2 separate regions of the Homo sapiens genome follow, and region 2 is linked to region 1. Evidence: fine-mapped expression QTL. Tissue or cell type: fibroblasts. Region 1 holds a variant in brackets; the other region holds the start of a gene. All regions are shown on one strand. Distances are from middle to middle.

The links. PIP is the estimated chance that this variant, and not a neighbour inherited with it, causes the effect.
Region 2: it holds the start of NLK, and the variant in region 1 is fine-mapped to the expression of NLK in fibroblasts (GTEx, PIP above 0.99).

Annotation. Positions count from the first base shown.
Region 1 is chr17:28,088,296-28,096,479 of GRCh38, forward strand. The region is part of intron 1 of NLK (nemo like kinase); the gene reads left to right. Among named protein-coding and RNA genes, the nearest start is that of NLK, 50 kb to the left of the region's middle. The variant G/A (reference allele first, on the strand shown) is at 4,562.
Region 2 is chr17:28,037,690-28,045,873 of GRCh38, forward strand. It overlaps NLK (nemo like kinase), which reads left to right and starts at 4,988. Exons shown (of 11, transcript NM_016231.5): 1 at 4,988-5,642. The coding sequence starts at 5,185. It overlaps LOC105371709 (a long non-coding RNA gene), which reads right to left and starts at 4,031. Exons shown (of 3, transcript XR_934637.4): 1 at 3,908-4,031; 2 at 3,537-3,715. LOC102724517 (a long non-coding RNA gene) reads left to right here and starts at 5,649. Exons shown (of 2, transcript XR_001752820.2): 1 at 5,649-8,184. RefSeq lists an enhancer at 3,434-3,728 and silencers at 3,896-4,125, 4,146-4,375.

The DNA of each region.
Region 1 (8,184 bases):
ATTATAGACATTGATGATTAATACCTAGATCCATTAATTTGTTAAGGTTTGCAAAATGGTAATAATCTAATTCTACCAGGTCTTCTGTATTTGTTAGCTGAAATAGTTCTATAAAGTGAAACTTCATTTTCTATTTGATTACTTGTTGGTAGGTACGGTTTCTATAAATGATGGGATAAATGCATAATTTGTTTGCTTTATTCATTTTCAAAATAATGAATTGATCCATTAGCATCCTCTAACAGTAACCAGTTAATTAACTTATGGATTTAAGTTATATTTCATATAGAAAAATATTTCTTAGTTTCAAATAGAAAAATATTTGATATTTTTATTTCACTGAAATCATTGTCTTTATTGGTATGCAAGTTGTTATTTTGGTCACTGGGCTCCTGAGTCCTTTTGACATAACCCTAGTTGTCTAGATTTGACAACATGTTCCAGGCTCATCTGTACATTTTCTAACCCAGATCTGGAATCAGCCATTTCTCCAAGGTTCCCTTGGCACTAGAGGTACTCATCGCTTGGGTTTGTCATTGTTTCTAGGCTTTTTTTAGTGGGCATATCTTTAAGATAAAATGATACCAGGAGTTCATACTGATACTTCAAATTCAAATGATTAAAATTCTGGTCTTGAATCTCCTTTTTCCCATACAAAGTATTGGTTCCCTTGGTTTTCAGTGGTGCCAGAAATGATAGAATTAGAACTTCACATAAGTATTCATTTGTTCACCTCACAGTGCATACACAGTACTCAGAATACCAGCACCAACAATATGATTAATGAAAACAGGTTTAGATGATGTAAAGAACTTTGTTAAAATCATATGGTTTGGTAAGTTTGATGTACGTATACACATGAAACTATTGCCTCAGTCAAGATTCTGAACATATTCATCACCACAAATTCCTCTACCCCTTTGTAATATTTTCTTTCCCCACCTTTCTCTTCCCACTGCCATCTGTAGGCTTTTTGTCACTATAGATTAGTTTTCATTTCCTAGATTTTTATGTAAATAGAATCATATAAAATGAACTCTTTTTCATCTGGCTTCTTTCACGCAGCTTATTTATTTTGAGATCTATCCATGTTGTTGCATGAATTAATAGTTCATTCCTTTTTTATTGCTTAGTAGTAATCTATTGTAGAGATATACTATAGTTTTGTTGTTTTTTTTTTTCATTCACTTACTGATGAACATTTGAGTTATTTCTAGTTTAGGGCTATTAGAAACAAAACTCCTTGGACATTCATATATAAGTCTTTGCATGGACATATGCCTTCATTTCACCTGGAATGAAATGGCTGGATAATAAGCTAGGTGTATGCATAATTTTTTTAAGTTAAATTGTTTTCCCAAATGGTTTTACCACCTCACATTTCCACCAATAGTGTGTGAGTTCCAGTACCTCCGTATCACTGCTGTTACTTAGTATGGTTAGTTTTTTAAATTTTAGATATTTTAATGTGTGTGTAGTGTTACTTGTGGTTATAATTTGCATTTTGCTAATGACTAGTGATCTGCCATCCTTATGTCTTCTTTGCTGAATTATCTGTTCAAATCTTCTCTCTACTTTTAAAAAAAATTGTGTGTGTATTTTTTTTATTGAGCTTTGAGGGTTTTCTAATGCTGAATACAAATCCTTTATCAGCAACATCATTTGCAAATAAGTACTCCCAGTTTGTGGCTTGTGTTTTTGTCTTTGTAACAGTGTCTTTTGAAGAGCAGAAGTTTCTAATTTTAATGACTTCCAGTTTATCAGAATTTTAAATGAATCATGCATGTTTATCTTTCTTGTTGGCTTTTTAGTTGTAACTGTTTGCTATATTATTTTAATGATTGGCTTTAAGTATATGGTATACATCTTTAACCTATCACAGTATACCTTCAATTGGTATTATACTATTTTATGCATAGCATAGTAGTCTATATCCATTTCTCACCTTCCAGCCTTTGGGCTACTGCTGTCATACATTTCACTCTTACATATGTTTTAAGCCCCACACTACATTGTTATTTTGCTTTAAACAGTTGTCTTTTAAGGAGATTTAAATAATACCAAAAGTCTTTATATTTACCTGTGTGGTTGTTGTTTCCTGTGCTTGTTATTATTTTCCATGCTCTTCATTTCTTTGTAGATACCCAGTTTTTCATCTGTTAGTCATTTTACTTCCTTTATGACTACTTATAGTGCAAGTCTGCTGGTGATAAATTATTTTAATTTTTTTTTAATGTCTGAAAAAGTCTTTATAGCATCTCCATTTTTGAAAGGTTTTTTTAGCCACGTGGTAGCTCACACCTGTAATCCCAACACTTTGGGAGGCCGAGAGGTGGGAGGATCGCTTGAGGCCAGGAATTTGAGATCTCCTGGTGGGAGCTTGTTAAAAACATAGCGGGAGCTTGTTAAAAAATAATAATAATAATGAAAGTTATTTTTGCTGGGTATGCAATTTTAGGGTGACTTCCTTTAAGTACTTCAAAGATGTTACTCTGTTATTTTCTGGGTTGTATTGTTTTCAATGAGAAATATGCTATAATCCTTATCTTTGTTCCTCTGTGTGTAATATGTCTTTTTTTCCTCTGGCAGCTTTAAAGATTTTTCTCTTTATCAGTGGTTTTGAGCAATTTGATTGTGATGTCTAAATGTAATTTTCTTCATGTTTCTTCTTGGGATTCAGTGAGTTTCTTGGATCTGTGGGCTTATATTCATATAGTGGAATACTATATATATGAAATAAATGTACTAGATCTAGATATATTAACATGGATCAATTTTATTTCATTTTATTTATTTACTCGTCACTGACTTGAAGCACATCAACATGGATAAATTGTAAAAACAAGGCTGATTTGGGAGAAAGCAAGTTATATATAAAAGCTTAGGCCAGTGTGAGCCATTTATGTAAATTTTAAAAACATAAAACAACCATATTTTTATGGCTACAGTCATATGTATCAAAAGTTAAAGTGTGAGTATCAAGGATTCATACCAGAGCCAGAATAATGGTAAACTGGGACAGATTCAGTTAAAGATGCAGTCTTTGGATGCATCTGTAGTAGCATTATGTCTTAATAAAATGTATCTGAAGCAGATGTGGTAAACACTTTTATCTGGGCAATGAGTACACAGCGTTTAATTTCTACATTTACACACATGTCTAAAATATATAATTATATTTATATATATATATATACACACACACATATATAAAATCATTGATATGAAAAAGGTCAATACAGTTCTTATAGCTTCTGTTGCTTCACTTTATTAGATATAAAATAACCCCCTTCCACATAGTTAACATTTCAGTAATCTACCAAATAAAAGTTATTCCCAGAGATGTAAGACCTGTTTCTTTAGAATGTCATGACCAGAATTTCCATAGTAATCTCTAAAACGACACTCCAGTGAGACAGTCTGATCTGTGGGTCATTTCCTTTCCTGTTAAGAGACCTTTGTTAATTCCATTTTGCAGTATCCCAGAAGAAACATTGCAGGTGTGCAACCAATCCAACTGAAACAGATAATACTGGGTAATGTTCCCTTCTTACTCTTCCTTTTTATTAATGCACTTATTACCCATCTTCCAAAATAAAAAGTCTTTGTCATACTGGCATCTGATTTTTTTTTCTTTTGACAACCAGCCTGTCTTCTGTCTCCTGAATTTTATTTTAACATCTTTTAATATGTTGCCAGGTAGGCACCCCTAGTTGAACAAGAAAGACCTGGAAATCATTAGAGCTAACAATATACAGGTTTTTCTTAAATGTGCTGCCAAAGGGCATAACCTCTTTGGATTGGTGACATGTAGCACTTGCACAGCAGCTTTTCTTCCCATTTCTAATGGTAAGAAGTAAAATAGCCTTCTGTCAGGACCAACTTTTCTTTGGACACATGCTTCTAATCTTAATGCATTAAGACTGGTGTGTTGCTCAGAGCTTTTTTTAAAGAAACCAAAGAAAAGGCGGGGGGGTGGGGGGAGAAGGAAAGGTAAGGAAAGCCTACTCAGCATTTTCATTTGTCTTCCAAAAAGAATTTACATTGAAATGTAACAGCAGTTTCAGAAAACTTGTGGATGTACACATTTCTTTACAGCAAATGGAAACAAATTTAGAACATTTACTTAATAGGTGGGAGCTCTTCCATTTTGGTGATACTTATTTTTCTCTTTGGAGGAAGCCATAGTTTGTGAGGGAATTTTTTTGTTCCCATTAACTATATAAATATTTTAGAATGGTCTTTTAGGATTTATCTTTCCTGTCTTAAAGCTGTTCCACCCTCAGGCTCAGTCAACTGTGTAACTGTTTGTTTTCTAACCAGAGTTAAGTTAGTAAAGCCCTCCCCTTCAACAGTCACCTATAGCGTAACAAGTTCGGGGAGATAATAGTCAAACAAAACAGACTGTATCCTGCCTCGAAGTAGAAAGAGCTAAGCAACTAAGTGGCTTGTTTTTATTTTATTTTATTTTATTTTATTTTATTTTATTTTATTTTATTTTATTTTATTTTATTTATTTATTGAGACAGAGTCTCACTTGCCCAGGCTGGAGTGCAGTGGC[G/A]CAATCTTGGCTCACTGCAACATCCGCCTCCCGGGTTCAAACAATGCTCCAGTCTCAGCCTCCCGAGTAGCTGGGACTACAGGCATGTGCCACCAAGCCCAGCTAATTTTTGTATTTTAGTAGAGACGGGGTTTCACCACATTAACCAGGATGGTCTCGATCTCCTGACCTCCTGATCCACCCACCTTGGCCCCCCAAAGTGCTGGGATTACAGGCGTGAACCACCGCACCCGGCCTAGTGGCTTGTTTTTTTGTTATATTTTTAAAGTTTTCCTAAACCAGTTTTCTGAGACTAAGAGTAACTTCATTAGTTGGGAGGGGAGTTGCAGGGAGGAGGGGATATGCATTAACAAAACAAAGGGCTTTCCTTTCTTTGAAATATTCTCATGACCAGATGCTGGAAAAATATACAATAGATTTCTTAAATATAATTCTAGCTCTGAAGTATATACATACTTAATGAAACCAAAATTGAATGCTCCTAAAGTAGGCTGATCTATATATAATAGCATTTCCAAAAGTAGACCTTTTGTGGGCGATCTCCATTAACTCTCCCTCGGTATCTTAACTACATATTCCCCTTACTCCATAGGCATTCCAAGAGGAGTAATTTATAATAAAAAAAATTCTGTGAAATGTGATGGTCATCAAAGGGTTCCTTGGAAGGTATGGTGGGAAAGCTTTGTAATTGCTGCTTCACAGAACTTGAGTTGAGGGAGAGCAGTCTGGTATAGTGAAAAGAACATACACTGTAGAGTCCAAAAGACTTTAATCCAATCCCAGTTCTGCCCCTTATTCTTAGGACGGAAGCAATCTGACATCAACTCTCAAACTACTTGGGAGTTGTACGTAACACGTGGCAAGTTCGTTAACTTCTCTGTGCATTAGTTTCCCTGTTTGAAAAATGAAGATAACAATTCTTCCCATGAAAATTGCACACCAAAGACTCACCATATATTTCATTTGTTCACCTCATTTATTTGTGTTTTACTGGACTAATGGTTTCTGCTATTGTTAATAATTAATGAACATTGTGTCAGGACTTATTCTGTTGTCAGACTGCCTTAGGATATGATCTGCATTATAACATTAGAATTTCAATCCAACATCTCTAGAAAGAGTATGACAAAAGATTGCAAAAAAATGACTATTATTTAATAGGGTAGCAGAAAGAAGCTGTAACATTTTTACTAGAATATGATTAATTCACAGATGCTGACAAAAGCCATTATATTCTCATCAGATGATACTTAATAACTTGTGGACAAATAAGATGACTTGTTTTTATTCATGAGAGATTATATTAAGCTCTCTAGAAAAGCTGTAATTCTTCAGAACGTCCTAGAATTTACTGTATAGGGAATGGTTAGATTCTTCAGGTTTCTGAGCAAAAACAACCCCCAAAACAAAACCAAATTACCCACGTAGTTTGAGAGATGATGTCAGATTGCTTTTGTCTTAAGAACCTACAAGCAAGAACACATTTCAATAAGGCTGCCTTTCTCTTTTACACCTTTGAAATTACTGCCATGGATATATTTACTAGTAGTGCATTATTAACCCAGCTATGGCCACTTGCCTTTTGCTGACCGAGTTCAAAGCTTATGTACCAGAGAGGAAGGTAGTATTGGGAGGGGAGTTCTTGACAAAGGAGCTACTGATTTGCATTTATGGTAATACGTAATGTAAAGTCAGTCATCAAAAGATTAAGTATCTGAAAAGGATTATTTCAAACATTGCCATCCCTAGGGGTTTGCTGTTGAGGCAAATTACATTATTTATAGTCTTTGAGGTGGGTGGGTGGTGGGGAGGAGAGACAAAAGCTAATATTTTTATACAGGTGAAAATAAGCATCTGGTAAAGGGAGGTATAAGAGTTGGAATTCTTGGATTACAAAAGTTCAACTTATATTAGCTAAAAAGTGGGTATGTTGCCTCACATAACCAGGCTTCAAGATGGATAGAGTAGAACTAGCCTTTGATAGTGCAAGACTTGAATATTGTCAAGACTCTTGTCTCCTTTCTCTGACTTTCTCTGCAAATTTGTGTTTATTTTTTAAATTGTTTTCTCCACAGGGCAGAGGTAGTTCTCAGTCCACATATTTGCAGCTCTTCTTTAACCAAAGAGGAAAGGGACCTGACCTAGCTCCAGTTTTCATGATATCTAAGTCTTTTTTGGTGGTGGAGAATGTAGTCTCCTTACCAGAATAAAATTAGAAGGAAAAATTGGGAAGATACAAATAATTGCCACCTCAAGTGGAAGTCATTACTGTGAGTGCTAGAAAAGGATTGTCCTCATGGGGAAAGAGACCATGAGTTATACATGGTGCTAGCAAATGTTACATGATACTATTGTTGCTGCCTTTCTGTGCTAGTCCTCCTGCTTTATCCCCATATTTCCCCTCTGTAGTGCAGTACCCCCTCAAGCTGGGAGGGTAGTCAACTTGGACAGCGGCCTGGACCCTAGGGAAGAGTTTGCTGAAAAGTCTACATGGCCATGTTATCAGATTCGTTCCATTCCTAATTCAGATTAACAGCTTCTACATGTGATGGAATTGTATTACTTTCTAAAAAAAATTTCAGACTGTAACTCAACATAGTTGTGGAAGAAATTCAGAGCTTGTGGGAAAAGATGCATCTCTCTATCCAAGTCTCACTTCTAGAGGCAAGGATTCTACTACTCAGGATTGTAGTATGATTGTACACTTTAATCTTCAAGGACTTTATTATAAAGCAAGGTGCCAATATTATTACTGATGCAGATTATCCTATGATTCCAGATTTCTGCAATTACAATATATATATTTGAAATGATTATTCCATTAAGCAACCCACTTGCCCCTTGCTGTGACCCTTGCTATGGTGTAACTTTTAATGTTTCTGGTTTTACAAAAGAAAATCTGCATCAATCCTTAAAGTTACATTTAAAATTTACATTAACAGTACAACCAGATGGCATTCTGACACTCACTGTAAGTATTCTAGGATTTTTCTAAAATAGCTGGCTCAAATAGAAAAGTCATCTTTTTCCCAAGTGTGTTCCTGTCCTTTTCTCTTGTTGTGTGTTCTAACTGTTGCACTTATATTAAAATCATAAAACCAGAATGGAGAATTTATTCCAAAAGTTCCCATGCATTTCTCCAATCTTACTTCCTGTTGCAAGGACCCACCATCACAAATGAAGTGTAATTGTACATTCATGATGACGTCTTGCTTATTAAATGGTGACATTCAAGAAATTGTCAGCACAGGCATTCTTTTATAGGTCAAGGATATACTTATTTTGAAAACGTTGAAAAATAATAGTAATTATTTAACTGATTTCAGAAGAATCTATTTCAGTGGCATCCTGGACTTTCTACTGACTCACTAAAAATAGGGATTTTTGAAGAGGATGACAAAATTCATAAGTCCTTGATTCTACTATGTAAAATTATAATTTTACACAAGAAAAAGTACAATGTGGTTTACTTTTAGCCTAGTTTACCATAGTTAAGCCAAGAAAATGTAAGCTAACCAAAAGCTTGCAGAATTGTCGTTATTGTGACTCAGTGGTATAGACTTGAGTTTTCAAAAATGAAGTGTTCTTGTAATTTTTTTTATCCTCCTACAATATAGTCTCAG
Region 2 (8,184 bases), 51 kb before region 1:
TCAGTCGCCCAGGCTGAAGTGCAGTGACGTGATCTCGGCTCACTGCAAGCTCCGCGTCCTGGGTTCACGCCATTCTCCTGCCTCAGCCTCCCAGGCCGGCTAATGTTTTGAATTTTTAGTAGAGACGAGGTTTCACCACATTAGCCAGGATGGTCTCTATCTCCTGACCTCGTGATCTGCCTGCCTCAGCCTCCCAAAGTACTGGGATTACAGGTGTGAGCCACTGCACCCGGCCTCAACCATTCAGCCTTTCATTTTCACTACAGTATTCAATAAATTATGAGATATTCAACATTTTATTATAAAATAGACTGTGCTAGATGATCTTGCAGAACTGTAGGCTAATGTCAGTGTTCTGAGCACGTTAAGGTAGGTTAGGCTACGATGTTCAGTAGGTTAGGGTATTAAATGCATTTTCAACATACGATGGGCTTATCGGGACACAAACTCGGCCAGGCGCGGTAGCTCACGCCTGTAATCCCAGTACTTTGGGAGGTCGAGGCGGGCGGATCACAAGGTCAGGAAATCGAGACCATCCCGGCTAACATGGTGAAACCCCATCTCTACTAAAAATACAAAAAATTAGCTGGGCGTGGTGGCGGGCGCCTGTAGTCCCAGCTACTCAGGAGGCTGAGGCAGGAGAATGGCATGAACCTGGGAGGCGAAGCTTGCAGTGAGCCGAGATTGCGCCACTGCACTCCAGCCTGAGCGACAGAGCGAGACTCCGTCTCAAAAAGAAAAAAAGAAGGGACACAAACTCATCATGAGTCCAGAAGCATCTGTACATCTATCTCCTCTCCCCCACAGTTGAAGTTAGCACCATGCCTAGATATAATTGGTGCTTAATACATGTTTGTGGAAGGAATAAATAACTCTTAATGTACAATTGTTTTCTCGTGGATTAGATTAATTTATTTATTTCACATGTATCAAGCACTTTCTATGTATTATTATAGTACTATACTAAGCGCTGAAAAAGAAAGTTTACAAAGACTAAGCTCCTTTACTCTAGGCCTGTGCTTCTTAAGCTCTAGCGTTTGTAAGAATGACCTGGAGAGCTTGTTAAACAGATTCCTCCTCTCCTCCTCCAATTCTTATTCAGTAGGTCTGAGGTGAAACCAGATAATTTGCTGAACATCTAAGAAGCTTTTAGGAAACTACACTTTGGAGGAGAGTGCTGTGCATTGGAAAATTGGAAACATCTCAAATATTACATGAGGGTGAGTGTTGAAGAGAATTTATATTGCATTTTCACTATTTGCCAAGCACGTTTAAATACATCACCTCATTTAACCCTCATATAGACCTCATGAGTCATGTATTATTTCAGTTGAGGCAACTGAGATTGAGAAAGGTTAGTTAAGTTGCCTAAACTATAGAGTAAGTAAATGGCAGAGCTTGGGTTTGTACCCACTTCTGCACTCAGTAATTCAGGCAAATCTGTAGCAAGTGTCTTCTTTTTTTTCAGGCACTGTCCTAAGGAACTGGGCATACAACATTGAGTGAGACAGACAAGCTCTCTGTCCCCGGTCAAACTCAACAAGCACTTAAAATATCGATATGAGGGAGGCAGTGTCATGGAGATATACAACAGAAACGTATACTCTAGAACAGAGTTAGAACTTTCCAGGAAAAAAAGTAAAATTTACACGAAGACCTGAGGGATGAATTAGAGCAGTGAAGGATGAGCGGGAAATGTTTTGGGCTGAAGATATACATGAAGGCTTGAAAGCATTCAAGGAGCTGCAGGAAGTTCAGAATGTCTGAAGTGTGGAGTGGAAGGGAGAGATAAGACCCTTGAGGTAGGTAGGCAGGAACCAGATCATGCCAGGCTATTTAGGGGTACAGCCAGCCTTTTTTTTTTTTTGACAGGATCTCACTGTCACCCAGGCTGGAGTGCACTGGTGGGATCTCAGCTCACTACAGCATCTACCTCCCTGGCTCAAGCTATCCTCCCACCTCAGCCTCTTCAGTAGCTGGGTCTAGAGACATGTGTACCACTAATTTTTGTATTTTTTGTAGACACGGGGTTTTGCCACATTGCCCAGACTGATCTTCTGAACTCAAGGGATCCACGTACCTTGGCCTCACCAAGTGCTGGGATTACAGGTGTGAGCCACTGCCCCTGGTCTCAGATTTGTATTTTTAAAAATTTACTATGCCCCCAGAGGGGGATGGATCAAAGGAGAGCTAGCTTGCAGGCAGGGAAATGGTTAAAGATGTTAGTGGTGTAAATTTGGGTAAATGCTGTGTGACTGGGAAGTAGCAGAAGTGAGGGGGATTTAAAATTGTTTAAGACTTGATGATTCAGCCTGGGCAACATGGCAAAACCCCATCTCTACAAAAAAATACAAAAATTAGCCAGGTGTGGTGGCATGTGCCTGTAGTCCCACCTACTTGGGAGGCTGAGGTGGGAGGATCATCTGAGCCCAAGAGGTGGAGGCTGCAGTGGGCTGTAATCATGCCACTGCACTCCAGCCTGGGCAACAGAGACCATGTCTCAAAAAAAAAAAAAAAAAAAAGAAGACTTGATGACTGATAGATTGGAAGGGACAATGTGGACAGGCAAAGGAGGGATCGAAGATGACTTCCAAGTTTTTGAGTAAACTATACAGTTTCAGTAGGGATAAGGTTCTGTAAGCTTATTATTTCACATTTTAAAGGAAGGGTAAATTCAGATAAATGAAGTGATGGAAAGATGCTATTTTAGTAAGATTTCAATGACAGAAACTTACTTGATAGAAAATATGGGAGAGGCTGGAGGCGGTGGCTCACGCCTGTAATCTCAGCACTTTGGGAGGCCAAGGTGGGAGGTGGGAGGATCTCTTGAGCCTAGGAATTTGAGACCAACCTGGGCAACATATTAAGACCCTGTTTCTAAAAAATTAAAGAATCAGCCGGGCATGGTGATGCACATCTGTAATCCCAGCTACTCGGGAAGCTGAGGCGGGAAGATTGCTTGAGCCGGGAGTTGGAGGTTGCAGTGAGCTAGGACTGTGCCACTGCAGTCTAGCCTGGGTGACAGAATGTGACCCTGTTAAGAAAGAAAGATAGAGGAAAATTATTATTTTTGTGGTCAAGTTTACTTTTTTTGTTTTAATTTGCACCAACAGCTTTATCATTTGTCGACAGTGGAGTTCTGAATGCCAGAGATTCCTCCTCTTTTTGCCAAGATCAGGATTAACTATGGAGAGGACCGGCCGTAGACTACGAACTGTCAGTCTACTGAGTTTCTGTCAGTCTTTTGAGTTTCCTTTGTCTTCTTGTTGAGTGACCTTGGACCTTGAGTTTCTGAAGCTCAACATTCCCTTTTTCTTCCCCTATTTTTTACCCCACACTTTACATCTTAAGTGGGATATTGGACATCTCGGATCAGTGGACCAGTGATGATTTGGACTCCGCCTTCTTCGTCTAGGTCCCGCCCACTTTAAGACCCCACCCCTTCCCTAAGCCCCGCCCCTTGAAGAGGTTGTCTCGATATGACAGCAAATTCTCCACAATCCTGTCCTATAGGAGATCTAAAGGGTGGGACTTACATCAACCTTTTTTTTCCATTTGTTTTTTCAAGTGTCTATTTGGCCCAGGTTCCATCCCACTTCATTTTCAACCCAAGGATTGGTTACTCTGTTCTTTGTCTCTGGCTCATGATTGGTTCTTTCGTTCCGCCCCTCTCTTCCAGCTTTTGCAGGCGGGATTACCACGCAGCTTCCTGCTCCTGCCAAAAAAAAAAAAATAAATAATAAAAGAAGAAGAAGAAAAGAGGAGAGAGGCGAAAGAAAAATGTCACAAAGATCTTTGCTTTTTAATTGGCTTTAAGCCTTGTCGGTCAAGCCAAACTCTGCCTTTGATTGGTCTTTCTATCTGCCCATCCCGGATCGGGGGCGGGATTTCCCCGGAAGACCCACACCTTGTTGCCACTGGCCGAACAGTGCGCCTGTCTGAAGCTCCTGGCCCAGGATTGGAGGCGGTGGCGGACAGGTGGGCGTGGATTGGCTAGGGCAGCCGGTCCGTGCAAGGCGGGGGCGGGGCCTCGGCGGCTGGTTGCGCGTGTCCGACGCTGGCTCCGCTCTATCCGGCTTTGCTAGGGGAGGTGAGTCCGGCCGCGGCGGAACCGGCGGCTGAGGAGGCGGCGGCTGAGGAGAAGGCGGCCGCGGCGGCTGAGGAGAAAGCGGCCGCGGGGACGGAAGCCGGGTGGGGGGGAGGGGGGGAGACGGAGCAGCCTTGAGCCCTGCGGGGCCGTTGCGCGGGGGACCCACCCGCTCTCCCCCCCAACCCTCCTCAGCAGAAGCAGCCGGCGGCGGGGGCAGGAGTCAGCCCGCTTCCGACCGTACCCCGCCCGCCTCCCGGGGCTCCTGTTCTTTGGCCCCGGGACCCTAACCTTCTCCCGGGGCGGTTCCCTCCGTCTGGGCGTCCGAGCGCTGCCCACATCTTTCATTCCTCCCTGCACCTCCTTCCCTTCACTTTTGCCCCGGCTCTCTTTCTCCTCTCTGTCCTGCTGTCGCCTCCTCTCCTCACTCCAGCCTCCTTCCCTGGCTTATTCTGCCCAGGAAAGTTTGGAACCCCCGCCCCCCCTCCCCAATCAGGTCAACCTGACTAGGAGTAGGGGGAGATGTAGGAAGGCCTGAGAGTTCGGGGGGGGGGAAGCTGGAAGCTGGTTTCCCAGAAAATTTCCCCCCATCTTCTCCATTTAGGGTGGTGGGAATTTTTTTTAATCCTGTTTTTGAGGAGGTGGTAGGTGTTTAGAAAAGGATGTGGGAATGGAAGGGGTAGATGAGTCAACCCTCTTTCAAGATTCCAAGGGTGGTGTGTTACCTGATCCTTTTCGTGTGTGGAGTTCAGGGGGTCGGGAGGTTTGGCCTTTATTCCCACATTCAAAGTTGGAACCTCCCCCAAATTAAGAATGGAGTTTTAGTACCCACTTGTGGCAGGAATCCTGGGGGGAAGGGGTCCTTTTTTCCTTTTTCTTTTCTTTTTTCCCTTTTTTTTCCTTTTGGCAACCCACACCCTTCCACACACGCTCACCCCAAAATTAAACACCAAGATCCTCTAACTTGTTTGGATTGACTGATGAAGACATAAAGCTCTATGTTTTTTGAGGTGGAGTGAGTGGTTTTTCTTCATTTTTAAATGGCCAAATGACAGCTTGACCCAGTTTGCTTTCCAATCAAAGGGCATTTATTTTGAATGTCTCTTTGTGGCGCAAGAGCCAACGCAAAAATGATGGCGGCTTACAATGGCGGTACATCTGCAGCAGCAGCAGGTCACCACCACCACCATCACCACCACCTTCCACACCTCCCTCCTCCTCACCTGCACCACCACCACCACCCTCAACACCATCTTCATCCGGGGTCGGCTGCCGCTGTACACCCTGTACAGCAGCACACCTCTTCGGCAGCTGCGGCAGCCGCAGCAGCGGCTGCAGCTGCAGCCATGTTAAACCCTGGGCAACAACAGCCATATTTCCCATCACCGGCACCGGGGCAGGCTCCTGGACCAGCTGCAGCAGCCCCAGCTCAGGTACAGGCTGCCGCAGCTGCTACAGTTAAGGCGCACCATCATCAGCACTCGCATCATCCACAGCAGCAGCTGGATATTGAGCCGGATAGACCTATTGGATATGGAGCCTTTGGTGTTGTCTGGTGAGTATCCAAAGAAAAACACAACCTCTCATGGTTTCTTCTGTTGGTTGTCATTGGATGAGTCCATCTCTAATGGTTGTCTCCATGTTGACCAAGGTGCAGCAAGCTTCTCAACCCAACTGTAGGAAGCCACCCTCACTTATGTGGTAAAGAGGCCTAATGCATTGGCTGTCTAGGCTCATGGCAAGTTTTGGTGGAGCGCCTTCTCATGAGCAACACACATAAGTGTGCTGTCTACCAAACTTTTCTATTAGAACCTAAGCAAGCCACTGAACACAGGATCAGTAGATGAATGTATGCAATACTAATTCCTACGAAGACCTTGGTCATCTCGTGTGTTTGATTCAGTGGCCCTGTGGCATTAAGTGTTAGCACCTGATCCAGACTGAATTCCTTTATAATACTCTTGTCATTAGGATATACTTTGCATAACTACTTTCCTGTCCTTTCTGTCTTTTCACTTATTTTGTGATCTTGATCTCCAGAAGAAAGATAGGATTCATAGTTGAACCAGTTAAGATCATTGCTTGAGTGGTTTATTTTAAACCATAAAGCTACAGTTGAGAAGTATGTAGCTGTAGCCTTTTGATAAGAATGCATTAAATATAGCATCACACATGAGTACCACAAATGAGGTTAGTAGACTAGCTATGCAGTGGCCCACATTCAGTGTAATGTTTTAGTGTCATTTAGTGCCTCTTAAGTTGCTGTTATCTGTTGGTCAGTTGCTGTAGTAGGAAATAATACTTTTTTAACAAATGACCCTACCTTTGCTAGTGCTAGGATATTTGTAAAAGCCTAAGGGCTTCTTAAATATAACATTTTGGTCTATTTGGTCTAACCTTAGAAAGATTAGTAGTTTATAATAAAATATGTTTGTTCCTATCAAAACTAGAATGAACTGGGTTTTCTCCCAAGGACTAATGATTCCACTTTGGATAGATGAATTGATATTTTCAGTGCATTCAAAAATTGTTACTCCCGAGAAAAGCGCCCATTACCACAGGAAAATGAACTCTTTGGAACTAGCCCGGTAAATATCTCCTTTCGTCATTGTTTTTGAGGCTAAAATTGATGGGTGCATTGTTTATGCATTTTAACTGGCCATCTTATTTATATTTCAGATTTGATAATCTAGGCTGCTAAGTGATCTCATCCATTTTTTAAAAAAACTAGTAGAGTCCAGTGTTTTCTCAGCTAGTCCCCAAGGAAGTTTCTGCTGCAGCGTGGTCCTTTCTTCAAGGTGTGTGGGATTCAAGGTGGAAAAGAGTATAGCTGGTAATGGTGCCTTGGTCATTCTGCTCAGGGACCTGCCTGTTCCTGCCTTCCTCTCTTCCCTTCCACAGACTATCTCAGAGATTTAACTGTGAACTTATCCTTGCCTAACTCTTGAGGATTTCCAAGCTTTGGTTGGGGGATGGAACAGACAGGAAAACGGTTGTTCCTTGGTTTAAATTTTGTCATTGATTTACTAATAACTTTTAGCACTTGTTTGGATCTTCTTAGATCTGGATGCTTACTTTCTTTTTTAGTGCCTTACATACAATGCTAAAAACTAGGGATACTGAAAGGGAAATGGGTTGCAGCATTCTTGAATATATTCAAAAGGCATTTTTCACTTACATTTCTATCAAAAAGTGATGTGACTTGTAGCAGTTTTTATTTTATTTATTTATTTTTTTAAGGAAGGGGGCAATAAAGAACTGGAGTGCTGAAACATCTCACACAGCAAACGTTCTGCTAGTGGGTACTATGAATCTTTGATATCTGAAAGCCCACATATATTTGGTTTGAAGCCATTCTAGAGGTTTTTAATTGATTGACTGCTCTACCACCTATGGAGTTTGTCTCATGTACTTAAAGTACACCTCTGTGCACCATCTTACTTCAGGTTTGTCTTGTGTCACTGACTACATTCGTAAGCCCCTTGAGGGTAAGGATTGTCTACTGTAGTAATCCTTTTCTCCTCAGCGCCTAGCACAGTGCTTTGGCATCTTTGCTGCTTGGTTAATTGATCTAGTCAGGTCCTTCTTTGTTTTGGCTTAAACAACAGAAAATTATTTCTCACAGTTCTGGAGGCTAGAAATCCAATATCAAGGTACAGGTTTGGTTTCTTTTGAGGCCCCTCTGCTTGGCTTGTGGATGGCCGTCCTCCTGTGTTATCACGTGATTCGGGTCTTTGTTTTTTTAACCAAGTTTTTCTAGTTAACTGCATTGAGTGTTTTCATCAGCTGTTACAGGTGAAATACAATTTGGTATGAAAAAGGAAAGAGTTCCAGGTGTATGTTTTAGTATGCAAATGCTTTTCTATTTTTATATTTACATGTCAATGACTTGCTGTCTGAATTCCTTATTATATTTGAAATTTAACTGTTGTATGACCTAAGTAAGACTGTTTAGAGATTTGAAAACCAAACTACCGGGAATTGCACTAATATTCTGAAACCCAAGGTAAAGATATTAGTGAGGTTTTTTACTTTTTAACTGAAACAGAATGTATCTTTTTAATTTAGGAAGCACCTTATGAATTGGAAACAACTTT